Homo sapiens: one gene and its partners. The protein of the gene in region 2 purifies or fractionates together with the protein of the main gene of each other region. This does not show direct contact. Each region holds a gene or a part of one and is shown on either strand. Other genes may lie near its edges. The genes, in order: ZER1, LYG2, VPS33B and SPATA20.

Region 1 (7,518 bases), on a different chromosome or scaffold from region 2:
AAATTTGCTGGGCTCATTTTAATTCTTTTTTTTTTAGAGATAGGGTTTCCCTATGTTCTCCAGACTGGTCTCAAACTCCTGGCCTCAAGCGATCCTCCCAAAGCGCTGGCAGTGCTGGGCTCTTTTTTAAAAGTCCCCATCACCCTCCGCTGCTGTCAGAAAAGCCAGGACCAAGCTAACGTCTTCTCTGCAGAATATTAACCCAGTTACCTCTGAGGGGTGTCAAGAAGTTTCTGTCTTGCTTTCCCCAATATTTCCTCAAATCCTACTAGTTGATGGAGGCAGCTAGAGCTGGTGACACCACCAGCTAGTGCTAAAACGAACGGCTCTGAGGCAGACATACATGCCCACATTCCTCATCATCACATCATCCTCATCAGCGTGACCGCTATGTATTGAGCACTTTGTGTGAAATACTGCATTAAGCACTTCAGCCCATGATTTTATCTAATCCAACAGCCCTATTTTCTTTTCTTTTCTTTCTTTCTTTTTTTTTTTTTGAGATGGAGTTTCGCTCCTGTCGCCCAGGCTGGAGTGCTGCAGTGGCATGATCTCAGCTCACTTCAACCTCCACCTCCCAGGTTCAAGCGATTCTCCTGCCTCAGCCTCTCCAGTAGCTGAGATTACAGGCATGCGTCACCACACCCGGCTAATTTTTGTATTTTTAGTAGAGATGGGGTTTCACCATGTTGGCCAGGCTGGTCTCGAACTCCTGACCTCAGGTGATCCACCTGCCTCCCAAAGTGCTGGGATTACAGGTGTGAGCCACCACACCCAGCCTGCTGTATTTTCCAGATGAGAAGATTGAGGTGGAAAAAGGTCCCGTGCCCACCTTCTCACAACCAGGAAGCAGCGGCATAACTTAACTTGATTTAATCGCAGTTCTCTGTGACCATGATTCTTTGTATTTGTTCCATCAATGGTCATTACAAAGATGGAAGAAGGGTACTTACAACCGAAGCCCCAAGCACAATGGCCATTTGTCATCTAAAACAAATCTGTATTTTCTCCAACCACCAGACACTTCAACAAGTACGGTTCTGAAAGGGTGTCCCATTAGACACCCTGTGACCCTGTATCACAAGGACAGCCCCTGATGTCTTCCCCACCTTTTTCTGGTCCCCACTGTTCTCTGACTTTCTTGCCAACCACTCTTCCCTTTCTTCAACCTGCTCCAGTCCCCCATCCTCCCACTGTTTCTTTCTTTTTTTTGAGACAGAGTCTCACTCTTGTCACCCAGGCTGGAATGCAATGGGCACAATCTCGGCTCACTGCAACCTCCACCTCTCAGGTTCAAATAATTCTCCTGCCTCAGCCTCCTGAGTAACTTGGATTACAGACATGAGCCACCACGGCCAGCTAATTTTTTTTTTGGTACTTTTAGTAGAGATGGGGTTTCACCATGTCGGCCAGGCTGGTCTTGAACTCCTGACCTCAGGTGATCCGGCTGCCTCAGCCTCCCAAAGTGCTGGGATTACAAGCGTGAGCCCTTATGCTGTTTCTTCAAATCACCAGGCATATGACCACAGGACCTTTGCATTTGCTGCGGAATGCTCTGCCACAAGAGAACTACCTGGCTTGCTCCCTCACTTATCTCTGCTCAAAGGTCACCTTACTAGAGACCTTCCCTGAACACCCTCTATAAAATGACAACTCCCAACTCCTTCCCCATGGTCCTTCCTTCTCTATTTTTCTCCAAACCACTTATTACCTCCTTACATATCATGTTTATTATTTGCTGAATGAACAAATGAACCAAAGTAGCGAGGCCCTTCACCCCTGGCCACCACTTTCTGCTCTAAGTATAGCCTCCCGTGACCCTTTTCAAGGCTATGCTTTTATGCTCATCCTAACCAGTTTGAAGTCTGAAGAGAAACATTCTGTGAAAGATCATATATGGAAGGATTTTCCCAAGACATCAGACATTCCATTCCCCTCCCCCTTAAAAATCAAATGCACTAGCTGAGCGCGGTGGCTCATGCCTGTATTTCCAGCACTTTTGGAGGCTGGAGCGGGCGGATCACTTGAGCCCAGGAGTTCGAGACCAGCTTGGGTAACATAGTGAGACCCCATCTCTATTTAAAGAAAAACAAAACAAAACAAAACGAATGGACTGACAAACACAGGCAAAGACTGGAAATCTTGGGCTCTTTCGGTCAAAGAGCAGCCAAGACAAGTTCCACCCAGAGAGCTATAGTGGCCAGCACAGTCAGTTTCACTATCAACTCACCTGTCGGGCTCCCTTGGCCCTCCGGTTGCAACCTCACCCTGTTGGATTTCCCTATACTTTGTGTCATCCCTTTTGGGAGCTGATCCAGAATCCAAGTCGTCCTTGAGCTTCTAAGCACTTCTCTGGGGGAACTTAAGCTCATCCAACAGGTAGGAGGGGCAGAGGGTGGCCCTTTCAGCCCTACACCGATCCCCCATCTTGTAGGGGCAAACGACAGAGCGTCATTTTCTTTCTGGAGGAAGGGAGCTCAGTTTTAAAGACACGATTCTCAGACCTGGCGGCAGGGATAGAGAAAGGAACCCTCCCACCACTGGCGGAGATGGACCTCAGAGAGTGGTTGCAGCGGCGATGCTTAGGCCCCGTAGGCAGGAGGCGAAGGAGGAGGACGCAGGTACGTCCCTTGGCCCGGGGTCCGGGACCTACCCTGGACGGGGCTGCCCTCAGCGTCGGGAAGCGGACGTGATGCTTCGCAGGCGAGGAGGAGCAGAGAATGCAGCCCGGGAGAATCCGGGGCCAGAGCACCTCAGGAGGTTGGGGATCTCGTCAGGCTAGAGCCGGGGTCCAGGGGAGACGGGGGTCGGCGGGGCGGAGCTTGGGATCCCGGGGACGGGAGCTCCGGGAGGGAGGGGGTCGCGACGGGGACCCCGTGGCGGTTACCTTGCCCTTAGGGCTGCCGGCGGGGCTGAGGCTCCTGGGCCCGGCCCCTCCCCCGATCCGGCTCCTACGGCTCGGAGCCTGCAGCCGCCGCCGCCTCCGCTGTCAACAAACCCGGGGCGCGTCACTTCCGGGGCCGCCCCTTAGCAACAGCGATCGGGTTCCCCCGACCCGTCCCGCGGCTAACGCGGGCGGCGGCGGCAGAAGGTTCCGGGGACCGGCGGGCGGCTCCTTTCCCCGGGCCCGGCACGTTACGCCGGTGGAGGAAGCCGCGGGATGCCCCCCCCAGGCCACCCGAGAGAACGCGTCATTCAGGGCTCTCCCTGGCCTCCGAGGGGCCTGTTCGTGGGACCCTAGGATCGGTGCCCGCCCTGGCGCTGCGGTTCACCTGAGCCCAACACTGCTGAATAGCAGGACTGACTCTGGGCGCCAGCCCCCTCCATCCAGCGCCCTGTTGAACATGTCTTGCGTTCTCCACGGGTGGCTCACACTCGCGTGTCAACCCGCAGTCATCACCGTCCCCCAAAAGGTGCTCCTAACCTCCATCTAGGGCATGCGCCACCAGGCAACCGAGCTTCCAAATGGGAAATTGGGCGGCGACCTCGGCCCCTACATTTTCCTGGGCCCCTCGTCCAGTCTCCAAGTCCTAAGGATCCTGTCAAACCAGTTCCTTCTGGCCGAGCGCAGTGGCTCACGCCTGTAATCCCAGCACTTTGGGAGGCCGAGGCACGCGGATCACCTGAGGTCAAGAGTTCGAGACCAGCCTGGCCAACATGGTGAAACGCCGTCTTTACTAAAAATACAAAAATTAGCCGAGCGTGGTGGTGCGCGCCTCTAATCCCAGCTACTCAGGAGACTGAAGCAGGAGAATCGTTTGAACCCAGGAGGCAGAGCTTGCAGTAAGCTGAGATCGCACCACTGCACTCCAGCCTGGGCGACAGAGGAAGACTCCATCTCAAAACACCATCATTTCTTCTCTGGATTTCTCTTTTTTTTTTTTTTTTTTGAGAGACGGAGTTTCTCTCTCTTGTTGCCCAGGCTGGCGGGCAATGGCCCTCAGCTCACTGCAGACTCCCCGGGTTCAAGCAATTCTCCTGCCTCAGCCTCCAAGTAGCTGGGATTACAGGCGCCTACTATCACGTCTGGCTAATTTTTGTATTTTTAGTAGAGATGGGGTTTCGCCATGTTGGGCAGGCTGGTCTCAAACTCTTGACCTCAGGTGATGCGCCCACCTCAGCCTCCCAAAGTGCTGGGATTACAGGCGTGAGCTACCACACCCTAGCTAGATGCTCCTTTCTTGAGGAACCCTTTCTTGACAGGTGCCTCAGTTCCATTCCAAGAACTAATTTTGTGGATTTCTTTTTTCTTGCATAGCACCTTTTAATCTTTGACCAGCTACAACTATGTTCGTACAGTCTTGAATCCTTAAAAAAGCTGTTGGGCTTGGCACAGTGACTCACAACCTATAATCTCAGCAGATGGGGTTGTCGAGGCTGAGGCTTGAGCCCAGGAGTTGGAGATCAGCCTGGGCAACATAGGGAGACCCCATTTCTACAAAAATTAGCAGGGCATGGTGGTGCGCATCTGTAGTCCCAGCTACTCGGGAGGCTGAAGTTGGAGGATTGCTTGAGCCCAGGAGGTGGGGAGGTACGGTTTTATGCTCCTTAAGATGGACATCATCAGAGAGACAATAACAAATGTTGACGAGGATATGGCTAGATGGGAACTCTCATATTAATACATTGCTTGGGCCAGGCGTCGTGGCTCAAGCCTGTTATATCAGCACTTTGGAAGGCCAAGGCAGGCAGATCACGAGGTCAAGAGTTTGAGACCAGCCTGGCCAACATGGTGAAACCCCGTCTCTACTAAAAATACAAAAATTAGCTGGGCATAGTGGCGCACGCCTGTAATCCCAGCTACTTGGGAACTTGGGAGACTGAGGTAGGAGAATCGCTTGAACCTGGGAGGCAGAGTTTGCAGTGAGCCAAGATTGTGCCATTGCACTCCAGCCAGGGCAACAGGAGTGAAACTCTGTTTCACAAGAAAAAAAAAAAAAGCCCGGTTTGGTGGCTCACGCCTGTAATCCCAGCACTTTGGGAGGCTGAGGTGGCCTGATTGCCTGAGCTCAGCAGTTCGAGAACAGCCTGGGCAACACGGTGAAACCCTGTCTTTACTAAAATAAAAAATTTTAAAAAATTATCCAGGTGTGGCAGCATGTGCCTATAGTCCCAGCCACTCTGGAGGCTGAGGCAGGAGAATTGCTTAAACCCTGGGGGCGGAGGTTGCAGTGAACGGAGATCACGCCGCTGCACGCCAGCCTGGGCAACACTGTGAGACTCTGTCTCAAACAAAAGAAAAAGAAAGAAAACAGAAAACAAATAGGAAATAAGAAACAAATAACAGGCCAGGCGCGGTGGCTCATGCCTGTAGTCCCAGCACTTTGGGAGGCCGAGGCGGGCAGATCACGAGGTCAGGAGACCGAGACCATCCTGGCTAACATGGTGAAACCCGGTCTCTACTAAAAATACAAAAAAATTAGCCGGGTGTGGTGGCAGGCGCCTGTAGTCCCAGCTACTCGGGAGGCTGAGGCAGGAGAATGGTGTGAACCTGGGAGGCGGAGCTTGCAGGGAGCCGAGATGGCGCCACTACACTCCAGCCTGGGCAACAGAGCGAGACTCCGTCTCAAAAAAAAAAAAAAAAAAAAAGAAACAAATAGCAAAATGGGCTTAGATTAAACCAGGAAAATAATCATAGTGAATGTAAGGGTCTAAACACTTTAAGTAAAAGGCAGAGTTTGTCACATTGCATAGAAAAGCAAGCCCCAGGCTCATGCCTGTAATCCCAGCACTTTGGGAGGCTCAGGTGGGCGGATCACTTGAGGCCAGGAGTTTGAGACAAGATGGACAACATAGTGAAACACTGTCTCTACTAAAAATACAAAAAAAAAAAAAAAAAAATTAGCCAGGCGTAGTGGCATTTGCCTGTAGTCCCAGGTACTTGGGAGGCTGAGGCCAGACTGGGTGACAGAGCAAGACTCTGTCTCAAAAAAAAAAAAAGAAAGTAGGAAGGAAGGAAAGAGAGAGAGAGAGAAAGAGGGAAAGAGAGAAAGACAAGAAAGGAAAAAAAGAGAGAGAAAGAAAGAAAGAAGGGAAGGAAGGAAAGAGGGAAAGAGAGAAGGAAAGAAAAAGAAAGAAAGAAAGAAAAAGAAAGAAAGGAGGAGAAGAAGAAGAAGAGAGAGAGGGAAGGAGGGAGGAAGGAAGGAAGGGAAAGAAGGAAGGAGAGAGAGAGGAAAAGAGAGAAAGAAAAGAAGAAGGAAGAGAGAGAGAAAGAAAAAAGAGAGAGAGAGAAAGAAAGAAAAAAGAAAAGAGCGAGCTGGGCAGAGCAGCTCACACTTGTAATCCCAGCACTTTGGGAGGCTGAGGCGGGCAGATCACCTGAGGTCAGGAGTTCACGACCATCCTGACCAACATGGAGAAAACCCATCTCTACTAAAAATACAAAATTAGCCGGGCGTGGCGGCGCATGCCTGTAATCCCAGCTACTCAGGAGGCTGAGGTAGGAGAATTTCTTGAACCCGGGAAGTGGAGGTTGCAGTGCGCTGAGATGGCATCATTGCATTCCAGCCTGGGCAACAAGAACGAAATTCCATCTCAAAAAAAAAAAAAAATGGCTGGGCACAGTGGCTCATGCCTTCATGCCTGTAATCCCAGCACTTTGGGAGGCCGAGGCTGGTGGATCATGAGGTCAAGAGATCAAGACCATCCCTGGCCAATGTGGTGATACCCTGTCTCTACTAAAAATACAAAAATTAGCTGGGTGTGGTGGTGCATGCCTGTAGTTCTAGCTACTTGGGAGGCTAGGGCAGGAGAATCACTTGAACCCAGAAGGCAGAGTTTGTGGTTAGCCAAGATGGCGCCAATGCACTTCAGCCTGGGCAACATGAGCGAAACTCCATCTCAAAAAAAAAAAAAAAAAGAAAGAAAGAAAGAAAAGAAAGAAAGAAAGAAAGACAAGCTCTCACTTTGGGAGGCTAAAGTGGGAGGGTCACTTGAATCCAGGAGTTTGAGACGAGCAAGGGAAATATAGTGAGATCCTGTCTCTACAAAAAATTTAAAAATTAGTGAGGTATGGTGGCATATGCCTGTAGTCCCAGCTACTCAGGAGGATCTCTTGAACCCAGAGGGTTGAGGCTTTAGTAAGTCATGATGGTGCACTGCACTCCAGCCTGGGTGACAGAAGGAGACCCTGCCTCTAAAATTTTTACTTTTAAAAAAGCAAGCCCCAACAAAATGCTGCCTATAATAAGCCCACTTTAAATGTAAAGACAGAAATAGGTTCAAAGTAAGAGGCTGAAAAAAGATATAGTTTCGATATAGCAAGCCAAATTCAGCAGCATATTAAAATAGCAATATACTATGACCAAGTGAGATGTGGGAATGGGATTTATTGTTGGAATTCAAGGATGGTTCAACGTATGAAAATCAAGTACTGTAGGCTGGGCTCAGTGGCTTATGCCTGTAATCCCAGCAATTTGGGAGCCTGAGGCGGGCAGATCACCTGAGGTCAGGAATTTGAGACTAGCCTGGTCAATATGGTGAAACCCCGTCTCTACTAAAAATACAAAAATTAGCCAA
Region 2 (8,020 bases):
CCTTTCACTGGGAGGCAGTCTTTGCCAGGCTCACTGTGTGGCCCACAGACCACAGGCATCAAAGTTACCCAGGAAGCTTATTAAAAATGCTTATCACTGGGCCGGGCGTGGTGGCTCACACCTATAATCCCAGCACTTTGGGAGGCCAAGGCGGACGGATCACGAGGTCAGGAGATCAAGACCATCCTGGGTAACACAGTGAAACCCTGTCTCTACTAAAAATACAAAAAAATTAGCTGGGCATGATGGTGGGCGCCTGTAGTCCCAGCTACTTGGGAGGCTGAGGCAGAAGAATGGTATGAACCCAGGAGGCAGAGCTTGCAGTGAGCTGAGATCGCACCACTGCACTCTCCAGCCTGGGCGACAGAGCAAGACTCTGTCTCAAAAAAAAAAAAAAAAAAAAAGGCTTATCACTGGGCTTTTCACACCAGATCTACTGCACCAAAATCTTGCAGTATAAGGCGAAAGAAGCTGCCTTTTACCCAGCATTCCCAGTTGACTCTTACACATGTTTATGAACCACTGCTTTAAGGGAACTGGAATATGACCATGGACCCTACGCTGCCTGTGTAGGCCTTATAAACACACAAGCCCTTTTTAAATTAAGAGTCACCTTTCAGCTATACACAGCTAATATGGTAGCTCATAATTAATCTACTGGCTATTTAACTCTGCTCTCACCTGGCAATCTAAAAAGAGTAAAAATTTAAAACTATGTTGCCCTGTTTTGACCATAAGTAACTGGAAATTACTTTCGGGTAGCCTTGTTTTTCCAAATTTAGAATTAAACATTTTAGAAACACTTTCCTTTCAGTCACCATTCTATAATTAAAGACAACTTGAACATTGCTCATAATGGCTTTTCATTTTGCTTAGGTCAGAGTTTTCACATTCTCTTATTCAAGATCCCTTACCAACTTACCAACCTATCTTTCCAGCCTTCCCCCCAGAAACCCCCTCGTCTGTCCAGACCACACTGACCCAAAGACTTTTCATTCATTTCTGCCTCTGCTTTTTTACTGAAATCTTTCTTCCCATCCAGCAGGCTCTTCCTTTTTCTTATTAAATCACCAAGCATCCTTCAATTGACATGTCCCCCCCAAAAGCCTTTCACATCTGAGCATTCTAGTTGGATGTGAGCTCTTCCTCCCAAACCTTTCCCAGACTAGTGCTTTTTTCCCACCTATACACATTGAACTCTCATCCACTGCTTGGCATTGATAATTGTCTCTTCATGTGTTTTGCTTCCAAGGCACTGTTCCATATACCTCTCGGTAAGGTATCCAGCCTGATAGGTGCATTGTCAGACAGGAAGTAAGCAGATCAATAAATATTAGATTATTTGAAATTCCCATAGATCCTGTTTTTCACCTGCTTAGCAAGCAGAACACACTGTTAATTATAGAAATAATAGTTGATTAATGGCCAAGCTGGTCAGAATGAGAGCCCACTCTTCCATTACAGGTAATCATTGCTCTTTCTGATTCATGATTGTGCTGGAGGTTTTTGTGGACACCCTGTGAACAATGCTAAATCTCAGCCAGTGACTTACCAATGAGGGCAATTAGTCCCCAAAACACCACGGAGGATAACATGGCGGGGAATCTTATCTTCCAGGACCTGCTCTGATTTGAAATAGAAACTGGTTAATTTTAAAACCTGAAAATTTCCTAAAGAAAAATTTGCTTTGATATTTTAAAAAGTTTAGAGTTATTTCCAATTCACTACTCATTTCCCTGTTTCAAGATAGTATTCTCACAGGCTCAGTACATAGTTTGTTGGCACACTCTCTTTCTTAAGCATAAACTCCTAATCTCACTTCAATCCAATTTCATATTGACATGAGTCATGCGTATCTTACATATGTAACTAAATATACACTCCCATCCCACCTCTAAGCTTGGTAACACCACAATTTTGTTCCCTTTCTTTTTAAAAAAAAAAATACTGATCTTTTCATTCTAGTTATTCACCCTACCCCTGGCTTCAAGGATCAGTTTTGGTCTTTCATTCATTTATTTAGAAATGGGATCTTGCTCTGTCACCCAGGCTGGAGTGCAGTGGCATAATCATAGCTCACTATGGCCTCAAACTCCTGGGCTCAAGCGATCCTCCCACCTCAGCCTCCTGAGTAGCTGGGGCGACATATGCGTGCCACCATGCCTGGGTGTTTCCATTCTTATACCAGGGTCTCCGTAGGGAAAACAAAATAAAACAAAATACCAACAGGAGCATGAGAACGTGACTTAGAAGAGGTTTCCTCTGCTCCATTTCTTCCTCAATCAACTCTATTCTTGGTTTCATTCAAATGGTAGCTTATAAGTTTTACAAGACATAAGAAGGCCAGCACTAACCTTGTTTGCAACCTTACAGAGAAAATCTCCCCTCTCTGTTTGCAAAGGTCTTCTGTACTCAGCAGCAAACTGCACTTCAAGCTTTTACAAAGCGACGGCCTTTGTCCTGTAACATAGGCTTAACAATTGGAGAATCCATTAGTCAGTAGATCACTGCGCACCTGGCTTCAACAGAGTAGACATCAGCGTGGCTCTACTGCTGTGGAGGAAACTTTTAAACACCAGCATGAAGACTCACCTGGCTTTTCTTACCTTCGTCCTGTACCAATGATCATTAGAGGAGCTTTATATATGGTTTAAAACCCTCTCTTTAAACCATTGACCTCATTAGGCCTGGTTATAATAGTACTTAGGACTTAGGTGACCCAATTAATAAGAGGATTTCAAAGGGCTTATTAACCACTATTAATTAATTAACCTAATGAACCCCCAAGTTGCTCAGGAGGCATATTTTGATAGATTGTTTCTAGATATCTAAAATTGTGCCAAACAGCTTCTAAATTTGCGAATAAGAAACAGATAATTCACTTTAAAAGGATAACAGGAAATACTAGCAATTTTTATTCTTGGATTGGTTATTTACCTGAAATATTGGGTCTCCTGCTTTTTGTTCCCATTCCAATGTCATATGATCCCCGTACCAGTATGTCACATGATCTCAAACCACTATGTCACATGATCATGATAGGTGAACTTGGCTCCTTACTCCAATCCCACTTCTGAGAAAAAGGTGCAAGTGTGGCCACCTGCTCTAGGAGATCAATGCAAAACCAGGGAGTAGCAACGTGAGTGCTCATTTGCCCATACTTGCTAAGGATATGGGAAAAAAGATTATAGCCAGGGATGAAAACTTCTTCAAGAAGAGAGTATCTTTCTTCAGGCTTATGTCCAAAGGAAGAGAGGAAGCATATTGTGCAGCCCCAGGAACAGGAAATGGAAGGGACGTTCTTGAAACAGGCAAAGCACATTGCGCTGAGGGGAGGAAGAAGTCTGGTCTGGGTCCTTCCACAAGCGTGTCCAGTTTCTCAGACTGCACACAGTCCTCCCCCACATCCACTGAGTGAAGAAAGGTGGAAGGCAGCTGTACAGGGAACAGGAAGACAAAACCACAGGCAACTTCCCAGCTCCCTGGCAATAAAACCACCTCCACTCCCAGGAGAACATGCCCTCCCCAAGCTGAGGTCTGCACAGTCCACTGGCATTCACTTCTGCCCTGCCTGCCTTCCTGCTTGTAGAACAGACGTCTCTGGCATGGCCTCTAGCCTTCCATCCCTGGAAGAGTGGCAGGGCTGTTCTGAGCCAATGGATGATTCCTACCTGACTCTCAGGAAAGTGACCCATGGAGGGTCTGCTCCACCACCATCAACACTGCAGTCAGGACCACTCTTGAATAAGGGATATTGCAGGAGTCTAACTGCCCTGAGGCAGGCCTTAGAAACCCATAGTCTATGACCCAGCGACATTGTGCCCGTGACCCACTTCACTGCAGGGTGAGTAGAGCCACTTACCTGAGGCTTCCAGGCTAAGTGCAATGAGAAAGCTCAAGAAAGGGAGATTAAGAAGTTACGAATGATAAGTTAGGTAAAAGAGAGTAGGTGGAGGCTGGGGCTCTCCCTACATGCACTGGAAGAAGACATTGTTAATAAAACATTTAAAGCACTGTTGAATGTGAAGAATACTTATCCTTCTGCTCTCAGTTAGTGGGGCTACGAGTCCTTCTAGGTATGAGGTCCTTAATGTCCAGGCTTCTGCAACTCAACCAAAATTGTTTTCAAACTGATGTGGATTGTTCTGTTCACTCAAGCTGTGAGAGAACAATTGAACATTTATTTGACACCCAACATTAGTCAGGTTCCTATGGATATTATATGACTCAATCCTCCACTGGCCCTGTGAGGCAGGTATTATCCCTTATTTTAGAGATGAGGAAACTGTGACTCAGAGAAGCTAAGTAACTTGTCAAAGATGGCACAGTTAGCATGTGACAGAGCCAGGATTTGAATCTAGGCCTGTAAGATTCCAAAATCCATGCTCTTCCACTGTATCGAAGTGCCAGCACGATGGACAAATGCCTCTGCAGAGCAATCATTGCAACAGGTCCAAATCAATCTGGATACAAAGCATTGTCCGTGGTCTGGAAAAATAACACCACTCACAGATTTTTATACCACTATCTGTCAAATGTTTGTAGGTGCTGTTGTAATTTCTAAAATGCAAATTAATATAAGTTAACTAAGTCCAAAGTGGTTTTTTGTCACTTTATATTTTCTCCACCAGTAATAATAATGTAGTTAATACGCACTGACCTTGTATGGTATGACTGGTAGAATAATAGGAAGGGGCATAACCTAAGTTTGTTACATTCTGAAGCCTAACTCTTAACTGCAGTACCCTACTGACCCAGTGGATGGTTAAGTGTGGGTACTATTGTATAATGACCTTAGAAATTTCTTGTCACTAAGAAGAAATGTACTGAATAATTCTCCATCTCTTCCCAGGGATACCAAGAATGACTACATGTAAGTTGTACTGTTATTTCCAGGAGGGGCTTGAAGGGAACTTGGCACCTGTCATAATCTCTATCAGTCCCCAAAATAAAAACACAATCTATATGCAAGCAATTTCTGTGCTATACAAATAAAACTCTATGGCCTGGTCCCCTACCCCTCAAATCAGTTGCCTGCTCCTAAGACTCTTCAGTGCAGCAATTCTCTGGCAGCTTCTGGGGAGTCCTAACAGATTTGGGGTTCCTGGCTTCAGTGGTGGAGACTCCAATCATCCCTAACGACTAAATGGCCTCAGCAATTGGAAAACTTCAATGGGAAAGTTTAAGCAGTACTGTCCTAGTTAGGAGGAGAGGAATGATTATGAAAACTGAGGTACTCTGTATAGCCAGGGAAGTAGATTCTGGTAGGAGTTCCTGGCAAGACTTCTCAATTCATACCACACAAAGACCTGCCCTTGTGCCCTGAGCTACCCTAGGTTAGCACTTTTGGGAGTTAAAGGAATCCAGCACCTCAGGCTCCCTTGGTCCCCTCGCCCTCTGCGTCCCCACCTGCCTCCCTCCCAACACTAGTCTGTGCTAATAGAGACTGGGTTGTCTCCGCCATGTCATTATTTGTGAATCCCAGGCACAGCTTTCCCTTCTCAGGAACAACAGCCAAGGAGGATGACCATAGCCAACTCATTTAACCTCCCTGAGCCTTAATTTTCCTCATCTGTAAAATGGAGATGATAATAATGCCCCATGACTTTGTTTTGAAGACAAAAATAAATTTTATATGTAAAAACATGTTATAAACTACAGTGCTTCATAGAGATGCCAGTTACTATCATGATGGGTTTGCACTCAAGTCCTGATGGCTTAGCTTCTTGTTGATTTATTCATTTGTTTGTTTATCCATGCACTCAGGAAAAATAAACAGCTGAATTATAGGACAGGAAGTAGGAGGTGAAGTCTCTCTCCAGCCATGAAGAAAACTTGGCAGGACAAGCAAGAGCTATTCATTGTCAGGACTCTGTAGCCTGCCTGGTAGGAGTGGAGGAAGGATAAGTTCAGAAACAGCCACACAAGCAGCTGCAGCCCAAGCATCTGTTTCACAGCTCTGAAACCTATAAAATGGGGGAGCTGCCCAAGAATATGTGGCAAAGGTACTTTGGCGCCAATGGCTGGTAAGAAGGCAGAAGGGGAGCCCTTCCATAAAATTTCACTAAAACATTCAACTTAACCCCAGGATATATCAATGTCAAGCTTTAACTGCTGTGTGCTTTTCTTGTCTTGGTTTTAATCTACTATATGATAGGTAAAATGCAGGGTATGCCCTGTTGAAGAAGCCACTTATATGGTTGCATTATTGGTCTTCCAATGTCAAACATTTGACCAACATTTCAGGAAAGAAGATATACAAATGGCCAATAAAGCTCATGAAAAATTGGTAAACATCTTTACACATCAGGGAAATGCAAAATAAAACCAAAATGAGACAGTATTTCACACTCTCTAAAAAGGCTAAAACCAAAGACTAGCTATATCACATATTGGTGAGAATATGAAACAAAACAGAACTCTCATACATTGCTGGTTGGAGTATAAAATGGTATGATTGCTTTGTAGTACTGTTCAGCAGTTTCTAACAAAGTAAATAACTATATGCCTCAGGAATTTTATTTCTAGTTATTTACCCAAGAGCAATGAAAAAAAAAAAAATGTCTCCCAAAAGACTTGTATGAGAATCTTCACAGATTGTAAGTTCTGCAAAGAGAAAAGAAAAAAAAAGAATTTTTACAGTGCTTTATTCATAATAGCTCAAAACTGGAAACACTCCAAAAAATTCATCAACAGAAGAATGGACTAACAGTTGTAGTATAACGATATAATGGAAAAATACACAAGTTAAAAAAAAAATCCAGGAAAAAATTCCAATGAACCTGGGCTGGGTCAGGTGCCCACCTCTGGATCATTCAACCATGTCTAGGAATATATTTGTTTGAAAAAGGGACTCCCTGTGGTTTGGAAAGGAGAAGGGAGAAGTCTGAAACAAAATTTTAAAGTAACGTTTTCATTTTGAAATAGTTTAAATTTCACAAGAAGCTTCAAAAATAGTACCAAGAGTTCTCATGTACCCTTCACCCAGCTTCCCCCAATGGCAATGTCTTACATAACTATAGTACATGTCAAATCCAGAACATTACCATTAGTATTATACAATACTGTAAACTTAGGTACAGACCTTATTTGGATTTCCCCAGTTTGTTTTTACACGCTCTTTTAAAAAAAATATTTATTTATATTTCAGAAGCGTATAGTACTGTGAACGTTTATCCCACAGGTAGATGCAAGTAACCATCACCATAATCAGGATACAGAACTGACCCATCACCATAAAAAGACTGCCTCATGATATCCCCTAACTATGTCTTTCATTGTGCCAAAAGTAAACTTTTTTTTTTTTTTTTTTTTGATGGAGACTCACTGTTGTCAGCCTGGGCTGGAGGGCAGTGGCATGATCTCGGATCACTGCAACTTCCACCTTCCAGGTTCCAGCAATTCTCCTGCCTCAACCTCCTGAGTAGCTGAGATTACAGGTGCCCACCACCACACCTGGCTAATTTTTGTATTTTTTAGTAGAGATGGGGTTTCACCATGTTGGCCAGGCTGGTCTCAAACTCCTGGCCTCAGGTGATCCATCTGCCTCAGCCTGCCAAAGTGCTGGGACTACAGGCATGAGCCACCGTGCCCGGCCAAGTAAGCTATTTTTTAAAAACAGCTTGATTTGAGGTATAATTCACATATCATAGCCTTCACTCATTTAAAGTGTGCAATTCAATGGTTTTTAGTATGTTGATAAGAGTTTTGCAACCATCAGCATAATCAATTTTAGAGTATTTTCATTATCCATGGAAGAATCTCCACAACCATTAGCAGTCATTCCCAGTTTCTCTCCCCTCCCTCTTCTCTCCTGTTCACCCTCTGACCCCAGGCAGTCACTTACCTAGAAGTCTGGATGATTTTGTAAAAAACTGCTCTATAGTTGTTCACTATACCTGTGATGGAGAGAAGAGCTGGAGCAGTATCTGGAGAAGGACTTGTGTCAAAGACAGTCCTTTTGTCATGGTTTAACCTGGGAGTGACTTGAATATAATCAAATGCTGTAGAAAATGAGGAT
Region 3 (7,868 bases), on a different chromosome or scaffold from region 2:
CAAGACCCCCCCCATCTCTATAAAAATAGGCCAGGCACAGTGGCTCACAGTTGTAATGCCAGCAGTTTGGGAGGCCAAGGTGGGTGGATCACTTGAGTCCAGGAGTCTGAGACCAGCCTGGGCAACACAGTGAGACCCTGTCTCTATAAAAATAGGCCAGGCATGGGCCAGGTGCAGTGGCTAGTGCCTGTAATCCCAGCACTTTGGGAGGCCGAGGTGGGCGGATCACGAGGTCAGGAGATCGAGACCATCCTGGCTAACATGGTGAAACCCCGTCTCTATTAAAAAATATAAAAAATTAGCCAGGCACGGTGGCGGGCACCTGTAGTCCCAGCTACTGGGGAGGCTGAGGCAGGAGAATGGCATGAACCCAGGAGGCCGAGCTTGCAGTGAGCCGAGATAGCGCCACTGCAGTCTGGCCTGGGCAAAAGAGTGAGACTCCATCTCTAAAAAAAAAAAAAAAAAAAAAGATTGCAATATATGATAATCATTTTTAAAGTATTTGATTAAACCTGATAGGTTTTCCGGAAATGGAAAAAAAAATCCATTTTAAAACCAAGCTGATTTTTAGAAAATTTCAAAATGTAAATCAGCCCTATCCAGAATATAATTTATTTAAAACTTTATCTTAAGGAGTCATTTTATAATAGTATAACTATTAAAAAAGTAACTGTTATTTTAATGTTTTGAAATAAAACATTTTAAAATATGAATACTGTAGCTTAAAAGAAAGAAACTGGAGAAGGAAAAGTAGAGAAAGAAATGCCAATTCCAGTCCAAAGTTTTATTTGTCAAGTTTTCTTAGAATAACTTTTACCTATTTACGAATTCTTGTAAATAGAATTTATAATGGAAATACTGAAAGACTTTTGCCTAAAGTGTCATTATCGAATACTGCTGTGATGTTACTGTAATGTAATAAGTTATTGTTGCAAAGTGCTGTTTTTGACTTAAAATTTTATTTTGTGTGTCTTGAAAACCATAGTATTAAAGGTATCGAGATTGTGCAAGTGCTGGGCACACTTGGCATGGGATAATGTTTTTATTTTTACAAAATTGTAATATAACTATGCAAGTGTTTATTAAAAGAACACAAACTGAAAAGGTTATGGGATTAAAAAAAGTAATGGGATTAAAAAAGTTATGAGATGTTCTGCACGGTGGCCCACGCCTGTAATCCCAACACTTTGGGAGGCCGAGGCGGGCAGATCACCAGGTCAGGAGATCAACACCATCCTGGCTAACACAGTGAAACCCGTCTCTGCTAAAAATATAAAAAATTAGCCAGGCATGGTGGCACACCCCTGTAGTCCCAGCTACTTGGGAGGTTCAGGCAGGAGAACTGCTGGAACCCAGAAGGTGGAGGTTGCAGTGACCCGATATCGCACCACTGCACTCCAGCCTCGGCAACAGAGTCAGACTCCGTCTCAAAAAAAAAAAAAAAAAAAAAAAAAGTTATGAGATTAAAAAGTTATGGGATTTTTAAAAAGTTACATTATGGGATAAAAAATGTTATGAAAAAAGACTGAGGAAAAAAATTGTGGGAAAAAAGTTGTGGAAAAAGTTATGAAAAAAAATTATTCCAAAAAAAGTTTTATGAAAAGCTATGGGATTAAAAAAAAAGTCATGTGATAAAAATTAAATAAAAGCAGGCCACTGTCAGCAAAACCTGGGGAAGTGTCCAATGGGGGAAACAGGTGCAGATGAGATGAAGATTACTGTCATCCAAAAGCAGGGAACTAGGCCCGGCGTGGTGGCTCGCTCCTGTAAGCCCAGAATTTTGGGAGGCCGAGGTGAGCGGATCACCTGAGGTCAGGAGTTCGAAACCAGCCTGGCCAACATGGCAAAACCCTGTCTCTACTAAAAATACAAAAAATTAGCTGGGCATGGTGGTGCGTGCCTGTAGTCCCAGCTACTCAGGAGGCTGAGGCAGCAGAATTGCTTGAACCCGGGAGGTGGAGGTTGTAGTGAGCCCAGATGCACCATTGCACTCCAGCCTGGGTGACAGAGCAAGACTCCATCTCAAAAAAAAAAAAAAAGTTATGGAAAAAACTTAGGAAGAAAAAGTTATGGGATAAAAAAAGTCATGGGATAAAAATAAAAATAAGGCTGGGCGCGGTGGCTCACGCCTGTAAGCCCAGCACTTTGGGAGGCTGAGGCAGGTGGATCACCTGAGGTCAGGATTCGAGACCAGCCTGGCCAACATGGAGAAACCTCATCTCTACCAAAACTACAAAAATTAGCTGGGAGTGCTGGCGCATGCCTGTAACTCCAGCTGCTCCAGAGTCTGAGGCAGGAGAATCGCATGAGCCTGGGAGGCGGAGGTTGCAGTTAGCCAAGACAGCACCACTGCCCTTCAGCCTGGGCAACAGAGTGAGATTCCGGGGGGGAAAAGAAGGAGTGTAATGTAATGCCTCACTCATCTTCTTTAAGCAGCAGTGGGAGTAAATCCCACCACTTTAGGGCAACCTCCATCTCCCACTGCAGCCAAGATTCAATCTAAGGGCGTTAGTGGGAAGAAAGGCTCAGCATAAAATACCATATGAGCTCTCAAAGTCCAGTGTGAGCATAGCGTGTTTTTTGTTTTTTGCTTAACCTTGTATTATACAGCTTTTCAAACATAGAAACGTAGGGAGAAGTTCAGCAAAGTGGCATGTGCCTGTATTCCAGCTATCTGGGGGGCTGAGGTGGGAGGATCACTTGAGCCCAGGAGCTCAAAGCTGCTGTGAGCTATGACTATACCTCTGCACTCCAACCTGGGCAACAGAGCAACACTCCATCTCTAAATAAAGACGTAGAATACTAAAATGCAATAAACCCCCATGTACCCATCAGCTTTAACAATTAACAAATGGCCAATCATTTTTTAATTTTTTTATAGACATGGGGGTCTTACTGTGTTGCCTAGGCTGGTCTTGAACTCCTGGGCTCAAGCAATCCACCTGCCTCGGTCTGGGTTCACAGGCGTGAGCCACCGTGCCTGGCCCAATCTTTTTCCTGAATGTTCCTACATCTCCCCCTGGGTTATTTTAAAGCAAATCCCAAACATATTTTAGTTTTTTTTTTTATTTTTTAAGAGACAGATCGGGCCAGGCATGGCGGCTCATGCCTACAATCCCAGCATTTTGGGAGACTGAGGCGGGAAGATCACCTGAGGTCAGGAGTTCAAGACCAGCCTGACCAACATGGAGAAACTCTGTCTCTACTAAAAATACAAAATTAGCTGGGTGCGTGGCACATGCCTGTAATCCCAGCTACTCAGGAGGCTGCAGCAGGAGAAACGCTTGAACCTGGGAGGTGGAGGTTGCAGTGAGCTGAGATCGTGCCATTGCACTCCAGCCTGAGCAACAAGAGCGAAACTCCATCTCAAAAAAAAAAGAGACAGAACATATCACTGCACTCCAGCCTGGGTGATAGATAAAGCCAGACCTTGTCTCAAAAAAAAAAAAAGAAAAGAAAAAACAAACGGTGTCTCACTCTGTTGCCCAGGCTGGGGTGCTGTAGCATGATCGTAGCGCACTGCAGCCTCAAACTCCTGGGCTCAAGTGATCCTCCTGCCTCAGCCTCCCAAGTATCGAGATTAAAGGTGCCCACCACCATGCCTGGCTATTTTTTATGTGTTGTAGTTGACCAATCTTATCTCAAACTCCTGGCCTCAAGCAACCCCCCGACCCCGACCTGGACCTCCCAAAGTGGTGGGAATTAGAGACATGAACCATTACTCCTGGCCAAATTATTTCACCTGTAAAAACTTCAGTATGTATCTCAAAGAGATAAGGACTTGTTTTTAACAGAAATACAAGCCTGTATGACATAGAAATACAAAAAATAATAATAACATAGAAATACAATACCTGGCCCAACGTTGTGGCTCACGCCTGTAATCCCAGCACTTTGGGAGGCCAAGGCAGGCGGATCACTTGAGGTCAGGAGTTCGAGATCAGCCTGGCCAACATAATGAAACCCCGTCTCTACCAAAAATACAAAAATTAGCCGGGCATGGTGGCACTCGCCTGTAATCCCAGTCTACTCGGGAGACTGAGGCAGGAGAATCTCTTGAACCTGGGGCGGCAGGGGGGTTGTGGCGCGGAGCTTGCAGTGAGCCGAGCTCCTCCACTAGGCAAAAGGGCGAGACTCTGTCAGGAAAAAAAAGAGAAGAAAAGAAATACAATACCCGAAAAGTTTTAGTAATTCCTTAAATCAGTTATCTTTGAATTATTATCCAAAAAAGATCCACACATTGAAACATTTTGTTGATACATCTCTTAAATCTCTTTTATTCTGAAGTGTTTTCCCCTCCCACATTTCCCACTTTGCCATTTTTTTGAAGACGACAGATCATTTGTCCCATATAATTTCCTACATTTTGGATATGGTTGATTTCATACCTTTGGTGTCTTAACATATTCCTGCTAATCTCTATATAGCCTATAAACTGGTAGTTAGATCTTGAGGCTTGATTAGGTTCAATTTTTGGCAATAGGTGATGCTCTGTATTTCCTATGCATCTCACCAGGAAATGATATGATGGTATGATTGATCAGAGTTGAGGTATTGTTAGCTAGCCTGATGCATTCATTATGTCTTTTTTTTTTTTTTTTTTTTTTTTTTTGAGGCAAGGTCTAGCTTTGTTGCCCAGGCTGGGGTGCAGTAGCGCGATCGCAGTTCACTGCAACCTCCGCCTCCCTGACTCGAGCGATTCTCCCACCTCAGCCTCTGGAGTGCTGCGACCCCAGGCGCCGCCACCTAATTAATAGACGCGTTGCCTCCGTTTTTCAAATGTCCCTTTCAGGACGCCGTCCCCTTCCTGGTACGCGAAGCGCTGGGAGCGAAAGGGACTTCCGGGAGATCTAGGAAGTCGCTTCTTTTTCTGGTAGAAGGCGGGGTTCTCCTCGTACGCTGCGGAGTCTCTGCGGGGTGTAGACCGGAATCCTGCTGACGGGCAGAGTGGATCAGGGAGGGAGGGTCGAGACACGGTGGCTGCAGGTCTGAGACAAGGCTGCTCCGAGGTAGTAGCTCTCTTGCCTGGAGGTGGCCATTCATTCCTGGAGTGCTGCTGAGGAGCGAGGGCCCATCTGGGGTCTCTGGAAGTCGGTGCCCAGGCCTGAAGGATAGCCCCCCTTGCGCTTCCCTGGGCTGCGGCCGGCCTTCTCAGAACGAAGGGCGTCCTTCCACCCCGCGGCGCAGGTGACCGCTGCCATGGCTTTTCCCCATCGGCCGGACGCCCCTGAGCTGCCTGACTTCTCCATGCTGAAGAGGCTGGCTCGAGACCAGCTCATCTATCTGCTGGAGCAGGTCAGTGCTTGCCTGACGCCTTTATCGCATCTACAGTTTAGCACTCATTGGATGCACATTTCTTCCTTGCCGTGCCCCTTTGATCTTGTTCTTGGCCCCTGGTATTGTCCTTGGCGCTTCCCCAGCAGGTCCAGAATGAATCCAGGGAGTAGTAAGAGCTGTTTGGAACCTGGCCAGAGAGTTAATGGAAATCACCCCCCAACCCCGCATACAGGCAAGGGAGACACCATTAGTGCCAGGCATCCCTAGGGACGGAAAGATGGTTAAGACATCTTTGCCATTAGGGATCTTACCACTCCAGTAGGAGCTGTATGAAGCACAAATTATCACACACAGGTGGTAAATGAGTGATAGAGCTAGTGTACCCGAAGAGTTCACAGTAAGTGATCATTTCTAGTTGGGGTGATGATCTAGGAGCTTCAAGGAAGTGAGTGTGAGTAATAAGCATATTTTCTTTGGAGACTAAGCATGCTCCAGGCAGATAGATTGGTAGGAGCAAAGTTGGCAAACCAGGGAAAGACAAGGCATGTAAGGGAAGACACCCATCAGCAGTTACACAGTAGCCACTGAAAAAAATTTTTTTTCCATTTGTGGCATGAGACAATACTTGATGATTCTAATAGTGATGTGTGTGGTGGCGTAAATGGGCAACAAGAAGGCCAGTTAGGAGACCGTAGATCAGACAAGAAATAAAGGCCCACACAAAATTGGTAGCAGTGGGAATGAAGGAAAGTGATGGATTTTTAAGTTATGGTGAAAGAAAACTCAAAGACTTACTGATTGGTTATAAATGTTGAAGGAGAAGCAAAAATGAGTGAGATTTTTAACCTGGGTTATTAGGAAAATAATACTGCCACTGTGATTTTAATGGATTACTTGTGTAATCATTTAGTTATTCATTTTATGTCTGTATTCCTCATTAGACTGGAAGGTGGGCAGGGATCATGTTTGTTTTGTTCAACACTACCTAGTGAGTACCTAGCTTAGAGTCAAGCACACACCATGTGCTTAATAAATATTTGTTGTATTAACATTGAATAGAAATGAGAAAAATAATTAGAAAAAGGAACAGGTTTGATGGGGGAAGTTGATTTGTTTGGGTTTGGATGGGGGAAGTTAAGATGCCCGTAAGAAATATAGCTTGTAACATCCAGCAGATAGAAATGTAGAACTGCAGCTGCATTGTGAGGACTGGAAGGAAGATGGATCAAGATGAGAACTGCAGGGCATCTTAGACCAGATTTTATTTCTATTTTATTTTATTTATTTTTTTGAGACACAGTCTCACTCCGTTGCCCAGGCTGGAGTGCAGTGGCGCGATCTTGGCTAACTGCAACCTCCACCTCCCGGGTTCAGGCGATTCTTCTGCCTCAGCCTCCCCAGTAGTTGGGATTACAGGCGCACGCTAGCCCACCTGGCTAATGTTTGTATTTTTAGTAGAGATAGGGTTTCACCATGTTGGCCAGGCTGGTCTCAAACTCCTGACCTCAGGTAATCTGCCCGTCCCAGCCTCCCAAAGTGCTGGGATTATAGGCTTGAGCTACCACTCCCGGCTTCTTTCTCTTTAATACTTAGTGCTTGCACAGTGACATGCACATAAAAGACTTGCAACAATGTCTGAAGAATTTAAAAGAGGTGCTAGTTAAAGCCACTAGTTCAGGTGAGATCAAGTAGAGGAGACCAAGAAGAGAAACTTGAGCCCACTGGGTGATTCAGCATGGCCAAAGTGGATTTCCAGGCAATAACGTCCTCTCCTAACTAACTTCTGACTTAATTTTTGTTAATGTGCACTGCTATTCAGCTTGAAATATCAGAATCATCTTTGCCTCTCCTTCACCCTGATACTTAACTGAACCAGTTGCTGAGTTCCATGGATACTTCTTTACACATAACTTTTTTATGGTGATTATAAAATAACACTTGCACATTATAGAAAATGTAAGAAGATTAAGGAAAGTAAAAAGGAAAAGAAAACTACTTATAGCCCTACCATAAGTTATAAACACTACTAACACTGTTAATTTCTTTCAAGTATTAAAAAAAATATTAGGCTGGGTGCGGTGGCTCATGCCTGTAATCCCAGCACTTTGGGAGGCCAAGGCAGGCAGATCACCTGAGGTTGGGAGTTCGAGACCAGCCTGACCAACATGGAGAAACCCCATCTCTATTAAAAATACAAAATTAGCTGGGCATAGTGGCCCATGCTTGTAATCCCAGCTACTCAAGAGGCTGAGGCAGGAGAATTGCTTGAACCCAGGAGGTGGAGGTTGCGGTGAGCCGAGATCGCGTCATTGCACTCCAGCCTGGGCAACAAAAGCGATACTCCATCTCAAAAAAAAAAAAATTATATTACACATTCCATGTATCTCTTAATCTATGTTTGCTCACACCACCACCAGCCTAAATCAGGCCTCTTTCATTGCCACATGCTTGCGCTCTGTGGATGGTTTTATTAACTCCCTAAGTGGACTCCCTGCCTCCTGTTTCTCTGGTCTTCAGATTCCTCTAACATTTCCAGCTGATTGGAATGCTTCAATACACAAAAGCTTTATTTTTCCCTGTTAATTAGAGGA
Region 4 (6,199 bases), on a different chromosome or scaffold from region 2:
GGAGGCCCTGCTTCCATCCTTTCGAGGCTGGGGCTAGATGGATACCCCAAAAGAAATGTCTTAGTCGTGACAATAGCAGCTCCCACAATGCACCAGGGCATATGCAAAGTCACCATTCTGTGAAATATAAAAGCTCATATAAAGCATCTCTGCCCCCTTTCCAGCTCAACACAAGGAGACAATGGGGAGGGGAGGGCAGGTTCCCTTCTTAACCTCTTTCTGAGGGCAAGGATTGTGCTTTCTCCCTCCTGGGCCAGTCCACACCCCCATGCCCACCCCTGGGCATCTTTACTTGGTTTTAGTCCCCTGACCTCAGTTCAGGGGACTAAATTCATTCAGGCTACAATGACCATGGAAGGGAAAGGGGCAGTCTGCTGACCCCTGGAAGATGAAGGAGAAATGGGAGAAGGCAGAGGGGTCAGGTGGGGGCTGCCAGAGGAAGTGGCCCTGAGCTGCTGGTTCCCAGTCCCTCCCTCATAAGCAAAGCTGAGGCCCTCAGGTTACCACGGGACACTGTTAAGTTTATTCTAGGGTGAGTGGGTGCCCAAGGGGGGCAGTGAGTATGGCCGAGGTCACCTGGTGGCAGGGTGCTCAGGGATGGCCACAGGTTCTATAGGGCCCTGCAGGGCCTGAGTCTCTAGTCAGTTGGGATGCTTCACCTTCTGCCCCACCCCAAGGGGGTTGGGGCAGTCATGGATGTAGTAGTTTTCGTAATTCGCAGGGATCAGTGATGGGCACTGAGCAGGCTTGATTCTCACACACATATGCAGTGGCCTGGTCTTCCAACCGTCGGAGGGTACTCAGGAAAGGCAGCTGGCGGGACAGGAAGCTCGAGGGGTCCCCATCAGCCAGAATCAGCACCTAGGGCAGCAGCAGAGCAGGGAGAGTCACCTGCCGGGGTGGGGTCACCTGCCCATTAGAAAGGCCCACTGGGAAGTTCCCTCTTCCCAACATTCTGAGGGGAAGGAGATGTTGAGGAGCTGAGGATGGGAGGGGGCAGCTCTGGGGAGGTGGCAGATTGGGCTCACAGGGATGGGTACCTTGTTAGGAATGTAGACAGAGTGGACGCACTGCACCAGGGCCTTGGTGTCCTTGGCCTGACGGTCTCCACAGATCACGATCTGACCGGAATAGAAAGGTCACTCCGGTGTGTCAGGGGAGGGAGGGCTGAGCCCTAGACCACCAGGGCTTCCCCATCCTCCTTCCGCCCCACCGTATATCTCTAAGAAGGAACAGGGACTCATCTCAGCTGCCAGGATGAGTTAATGCTTGGCAAGTGGGAACACACACACACACTCACACATGAGAATACCGAAGTGGAAATGTCATACATATACACAATGGTACAGATACAAACATGGGGAGACACACACCCAGAAGACCCAGAGCACACAGAGACCCATTCAGACAGACACAGAGTAGTCACACACACACACACACACACACACACACACACACACACACACAGTAGATGCCCACACAGAGGCAGATACCACACACACAAACACCAGACACACACGCATGCAGGCAGACACAGAGGCAAACCTGCAGATGGGGCATCCACATGCAGACAGACAAACACTCACACCAGCATCCCCCTCAAAGGTAGGTGCACAGACACACACCTCCAGGGTCACACACACCCGGAAGTACACACACACCAGTAACACAGTATGGACAGAAGCAATTACACTGACACCAAGACGTACAGAGAAACACTTCATCAGCCACCACGGACTCATATTAACTTCTGCCTCCCTGTCTGACAGGCCACGTGCCTGCACACACACAGACCTGAGCTCTGGGGACAGCCCAGGAACCCCACCCCCTGTTCCCATCTGCCATCGCAGCCCCAACTTCCCTCCTACCCGAGGTCCCAGCCCAGATGCCCTCACCCCCCACCTGCTTGAGGGTCTGCTGCTGGGCTGAGAGGGCGCGGACCATCTCGGGCAACGCCACCGGGACACGACGCATGCGCTCGGAAAAGGCGGTCAATAGGCACACACACTTGTCCATCCAGTCCTTGTGGCCCGTGAAGCCATGCAGCCGGAGCAGGTTGTGGGCTGACACGGAATTGGCGCTGGGCTCTGCTCCATCCTGGTCTACAGCACATAGGGAGGCAGGGGGTGGGGGTAAGGGCAGGTCACTGAGTCCCAGGACCCTGCCCAGGACTGTATCCAGGGCCACTTGGGGGACGGGACAGAGAAAAGGCCCTGCCCATCCTGCCCCTTCCCCGCTCTGGGTGTGGATGCCACTCCAGCAGTTATCAGTACTTTGCTGTCTTTTTTATGGCACCCTCCACTCTACCTGTCCTAGCCTCAACTGTTGGTCTCCAGGCTCCCTCCTCGCTGCTGATGCCTCTGTCCAGCCACTCAGCTGCTCAAGCTAGAGCGGCATCATCCTGTCCCCTTCCTCTCCCTCTCCCTCCGCTTCTAATCCATCTGTGAGTCTTGCCAGGGCTGTGGCCAGAAGAGATCCAAATCTCACCATGTCTCCCCATCTCATACTTCCACATCCTCTGAGCCTTCACCAATGCCTGCCTGGACTGAACACGAGTAATGGCCTCCTAACTGGTCGCCTGTTTCCCCCACCCCCACTTCTCTCCATCAGTGGTCAGAGTGACCTCCTTAAAACCATACCAGAGCAGATCACAATCCACTTAAAACCTCCTTGCCAGCCGGGCATGGTGGCTCACACCTGTAGTCCCAGCACCTGGGAAGCCGAGGCGGGAGGATCACCTGAGCCCAGGAGTTTGAGACCAGCCTTCTTTTCTTAGGAAAAAAAAAAAAAAAAGACGGCTTCCGTGCCCTGCCGGCCTCAGCATTCTCCTCGGTGCCCTCCTGGAACACGCGGGCCCTGCCTGTCCTCCAGGATACAGGCTGCCTGCACCAGGCCTGTCATGCACTGCTCCCTATGCCTGAACTCTCTCCACAGCTTCTCCATGGCCACATGGCCCCTCTTTCCCTCCAGGCCTTGGTTAAATGACACCTGTCACAGGTGTCCTCTAATCTCTCCCTAGGCTGAGTTGGTCCTCCTCTGTGGTTCTCTCCCAAGGCCCTTTCATTCACTCAGTTAACATTTATTAAGCACTTACAATGTGCCAGAACCACACTAGACCCTGGGGATACAACAGTGGCAGAAAGTCCTGATCTTTGAGGAGCTAAAATTTGAGTTTTGGGAAAGAAACCTTTAACCACAGACAAGGCACATGGGTGATAGGGAGCAGGCACACATAGAGCGTCCTACTTCTTCATGGCACTCACCACAATTTTAACTGCACATTTGTGCATGTGTTTTTGCATCATTACTGCATTTTCGCTGTCTCCCCTACCATACTGTAAGCTTCATGAGGGCAGAGACCAAGTGAGCCTTGGTCAATATCTGAATCCATGGGTGTCAGTTACTGTGCTAAGCATGTTTACAGAACAGCTACATTCATCTTTACATCAACCCTGTAAGGTAGTACCAATGTTAGCTCCATTTTACTTATTAAGAAACAGGCCAGGCATGGTGGCTCTCGCCTGTAATCCCAGCACTTTGGGAGGCCGAGGTGGGCAGATCACTTGAGCCCAGTAGTTTCAGACCAGCCTGGGCAACATGGAGAAATCCCATCTCTACAAAAAATTAGCCAGGCATGGTGGTGCATGCCTATAGTCCTAGCTACTCAGGAGGCTGAGGTGGGAGAATTGATTCAGCCCCGGAGGCAGAGGTTGCTGTGAGCCAAGATCATGCCACTGCATTCCAGCCTGGGTGACAGTGAGACCCTGTCTCAAAAAAAAAAAAAAAAGAGAAAGAAAGAGAGAAAGAAAAGAAAGAAAGGAAGAAAGGAAAGAGAAAGAAAGAAAGAGAAAGGAAATAAAAAGAAAAGAAAGGAACGAAACAAAACACGCTGAGTGTAGTGGTTCATGCCTGTAATCCCAGCACTTTGGGAGGCCGAGGTGGGAGGATCACTTGAGCCCAGGATTTCAAGATCAGCCTGGGCAACATAGCAAGACTCTGTCTCTATTTAAAAAAAAGAAATTGAGACACAGAAATATTACAGCAGCCAAAAATCACGCCATTAATAAGTAGCAGAGACACAAAGCCAGGAGGGCTCCTGCCCACACCAGCTCTTCACCCACGCTGCACTTACACCTCCCAGGACCCCAGACTAGCCCTGCACCCCCACTGACCGTCCTTCAGACGCAGGGGCAGGCCAGCCCCCAGCTCAGCCTCACTGCAGAAGTAGCCGCCACCCTGGGAGTCCCAAAAGAGCTTGTCCTGTGTGTCCTGCAGCCGCAGAGCCCACTCGAGCCACGCACTCTCCTGTGAGGCCTCATACAGGTCCAGCAGGCCCCGCACCACGAAGGCGTAGTCCTCCAGGAAGCCCCAGCAGGGTGGGTTGCTGGGGGACAGGCATTACGGGAGGGGCTGGGGAGAGCCCCAGGAGAGAGGGCCTTTCCCAGAGGAGGCCCTTTCACGCATTTGTTCACTTAACCCTCCAGATGAACCCTCTTGGGCAGGTGCCATCAGCCCACTTCCCAGATGAGTAAATGGGCCCAGGGAAGCTACAAACTCACAGCAAGCACCTGGCAGAGCCAGGACTGGAGTCCACATGGAGGGGAGAAGTAGGGCAGAGGTAGGCTGGGGACGCGTTGGGGAGACGGGCCCTCCCGGTCTACCCAGCCCCCAACCTGTGCTCCACAGTCCCCCCAGGGCCGGTGTAGCAGGTCCGCATCAGGCGGCCACTGGCCACATCAAACATGTGCCGCTTCAGGAACTTGGCACCATTGGTGGCATAGTTGATCAGCCTGTCTTGGCCCAGGACAGCCCCAGTCACAGCATAGCCTGACACCATCAAGCCTGGAGCCAGGAGAGACAAGTAGTGGTAAGAAGCTGGCCAGGACCCTCCAGGCATGTCCACCCTATCACCTTAGGCCCCAACACCTCCCTGGAGCCATGGGTGATCCCTAAGATCTTGGGCTCCAAAGCCAGACATGGCGGGGTTCCCAGCCCTTGCGCGTGACCTTGGGCGGGTTACTCAAGCTCCTTAAGCCTCTTTTGTCAACTGAGAATAATAACGCTAATCAAGGGAGAGTGAGCATTTAGCCGCTGCCGGAAAGACAGGGGCTTTGTGAAGGGGGATCCTACAGACAGGCTCGGTCTCAGGTGTGCTGCCCCACCATTCCAGGCAGCCAGCATCTTGCTGTCCAGGTGCGGCTTGGGCCGATGCTTCCGGGCCTGGAAGAGCTTCTCCAGCCCTGAATTGAGCAAGGTCCGCACGGCCTCCACATCCAAGCCAAAGCGGGCAGCAGTCAGCTCCAGCGAGTACCGGACGGTCAGCACATTCTGGCCCTGCAGCTCCCCCTTGGGGTCCTGAGGAGAATGGCCTTTGTCTGCGAGCTCACACGCCTGGCAGGCACCAGGGCCCGTCAGGTGACCCCAGAAGTCCTCACCTGACTGGGGCTGATGTTACCAGCCTCTGTGAGGCCGTAGTGCTTCATGAGGAGCTGGCCTGAGGTCAGCGGCTCGGTGGCACCCAACACAGGCTCCGGGAGGAGCTGCTGAACCTCTTTGACCGTCCACACATAGTAGGCGCCCTCTTTGGGCCGCTGGCCCCGCTCTGGGGGCGAGTCTGCATCTTCTGCGCTATAGAAGCCTCCGGACTGTGGGGAGGGGAGAGTTGGCTGGCCCCGGCCCACAGGGCAGTGGAGGCCCCAACCCCTCCCACAGCCAGGCCTGCCTGCCACCATGGACACACACCCGGTGGCTCAGGCTCCGAGCCACGTACTGCAGGATGCCTTTGGCCACGTCAGAGTAGAATTCATCACCAGAGAGCTAAGAAAGGGAAGAAAGGAGACTGTGAACAGAGAGGTCACTGGGGAGGCCCAGGTGGAAGGTGGCAACATTCTCTGAGGCAGGCGGGGGAGGGAAGCCTGGGTAGTGGGTACATGGGAGGGAACAGGGGATTCAGATTAAGAGAAGCCACAGTCACCAGGAAGGCCTTGGGAGGGGCAGCCAGAGTGAGATGCCTGTTCTCTGGGCTGGGGTCAGGGGTCACCTGGAAGGCCTGCGAATAGGCCACAGCGAGCTGTGCCTGGTCATAGAGCATCTTCTCAAAGTGAGGGACGTGCCACTGGCGGTCTGTGGAGTAGCGGTGAAAGCCCTGTGCGGATACAAAGCTGGAGGCCAGTCCCAGCTTCTGCCCCACCCCACAGCC

Evidence for each region.
Region 1: the proteins of LYG2 (region 2) and ZER1 purify together in Homo sapiens (co-immunoprecipitation; 3 studies listed by BioGRID and IntAct, with this or other methods). This does not show direct contact.
Region 3: the proteins of LYG2 (region 2) and VPS33B purify together in Homo sapiens (affinity purification with mass spectrometry; 2 studies listed by BioGRID and IntAct, with this or other methods). This does not show direct contact.
Region 4: the proteins of LYG2 (region 2) and SPATA20 purify together in Homo sapiens (co-immunoprecipitation; 3 studies listed by BioGRID and IntAct, with this or other methods). This does not show direct contact.

What each region holds. Positions count from the first base shown.
Region 1 is NC_000009.12:128,768,928-128,776,445, forward strand, and holds the start of ZER1 (protein zer-1 homolog), read right to left. Parts: upstream 3,001-7,518; 5' UTR 2,654-3,000; exon of another isoform or gene 2,231-2,653; intron 1-2,230. UniProt on the Homo sapiens protein: Serves as substrate adapter subunit in the E3 ubiquitin ligase complex ZYG11B-CUL2-Elongin BC. Acts to target substrates bearing N-terminal degrons for proteasomal degradation with the first four residues of substrates being the key recognition elements.
Region 2 is NC_000002.12:99,252,666-99,260,685, forward strand, and holds the start of LYG2 (lysozyme g-like protein 2 precursor), read right to left. Parts: upstream 3,002-8,020; 5' UTR 2,938-3,001; intron 2,473-2,937; 5' UTR 2,355-2,472; intron 1,626-2,354; exon of another isoform or gene 1,621-1,625; 5' UTR 1,596-1,620; coding exon 1,553-1,595; intron 1-1,552. UniProt on the Homo sapiens protein: May act as a potent antibacterial protein that may play a role in the innate immunity.
Region 3 is NC_000015.10:91,019,581-91,027,448, reverse strand, and holds the start of VPS33B (vacuolar protein sorting-associated protein 33B), read left to right. Parts: upstream 1-4,854; 5' UTR 4,855-5,199; coding exon 5,200-5,295; intron 5,296-7,868. UniProt on the Homo sapiens protein: May play a role in vesicle-mediated protein trafficking to lysosomal compartments and in membrane docking/fusion reactions of late endosomes/lysosomes.
Region 4 is NC_000017.11:50,550,154-50,556,352, reverse strand, and holds the end of SPATA20 (spermatogenesis-associated protein 20 isoform 1 precursor), read right to left. Parts: intron 6,146-6,199; coding exon 6,041-6,145; intron 5,818-6,040; coding exon 5,743-5,817; intron 5,646-5,742; coding exon 5,436-5,645; intron 5,356-5,435; coding exon 5,163-5,355; intron 4,843-5,162; coding exon 4,674-4,842; intron 4,385-4,673; coding exon 4,173-4,384; intron 2,103-4,172; coding exon 1,903-2,102; intron 1,122-1,902; coding exon 1,041-1,121; intron 862-1,040; coding exon 691-861; 3' UTR 501-690; downstream 1-500. UniProt on the Homo sapiens protein: May play a role in fertility regulation.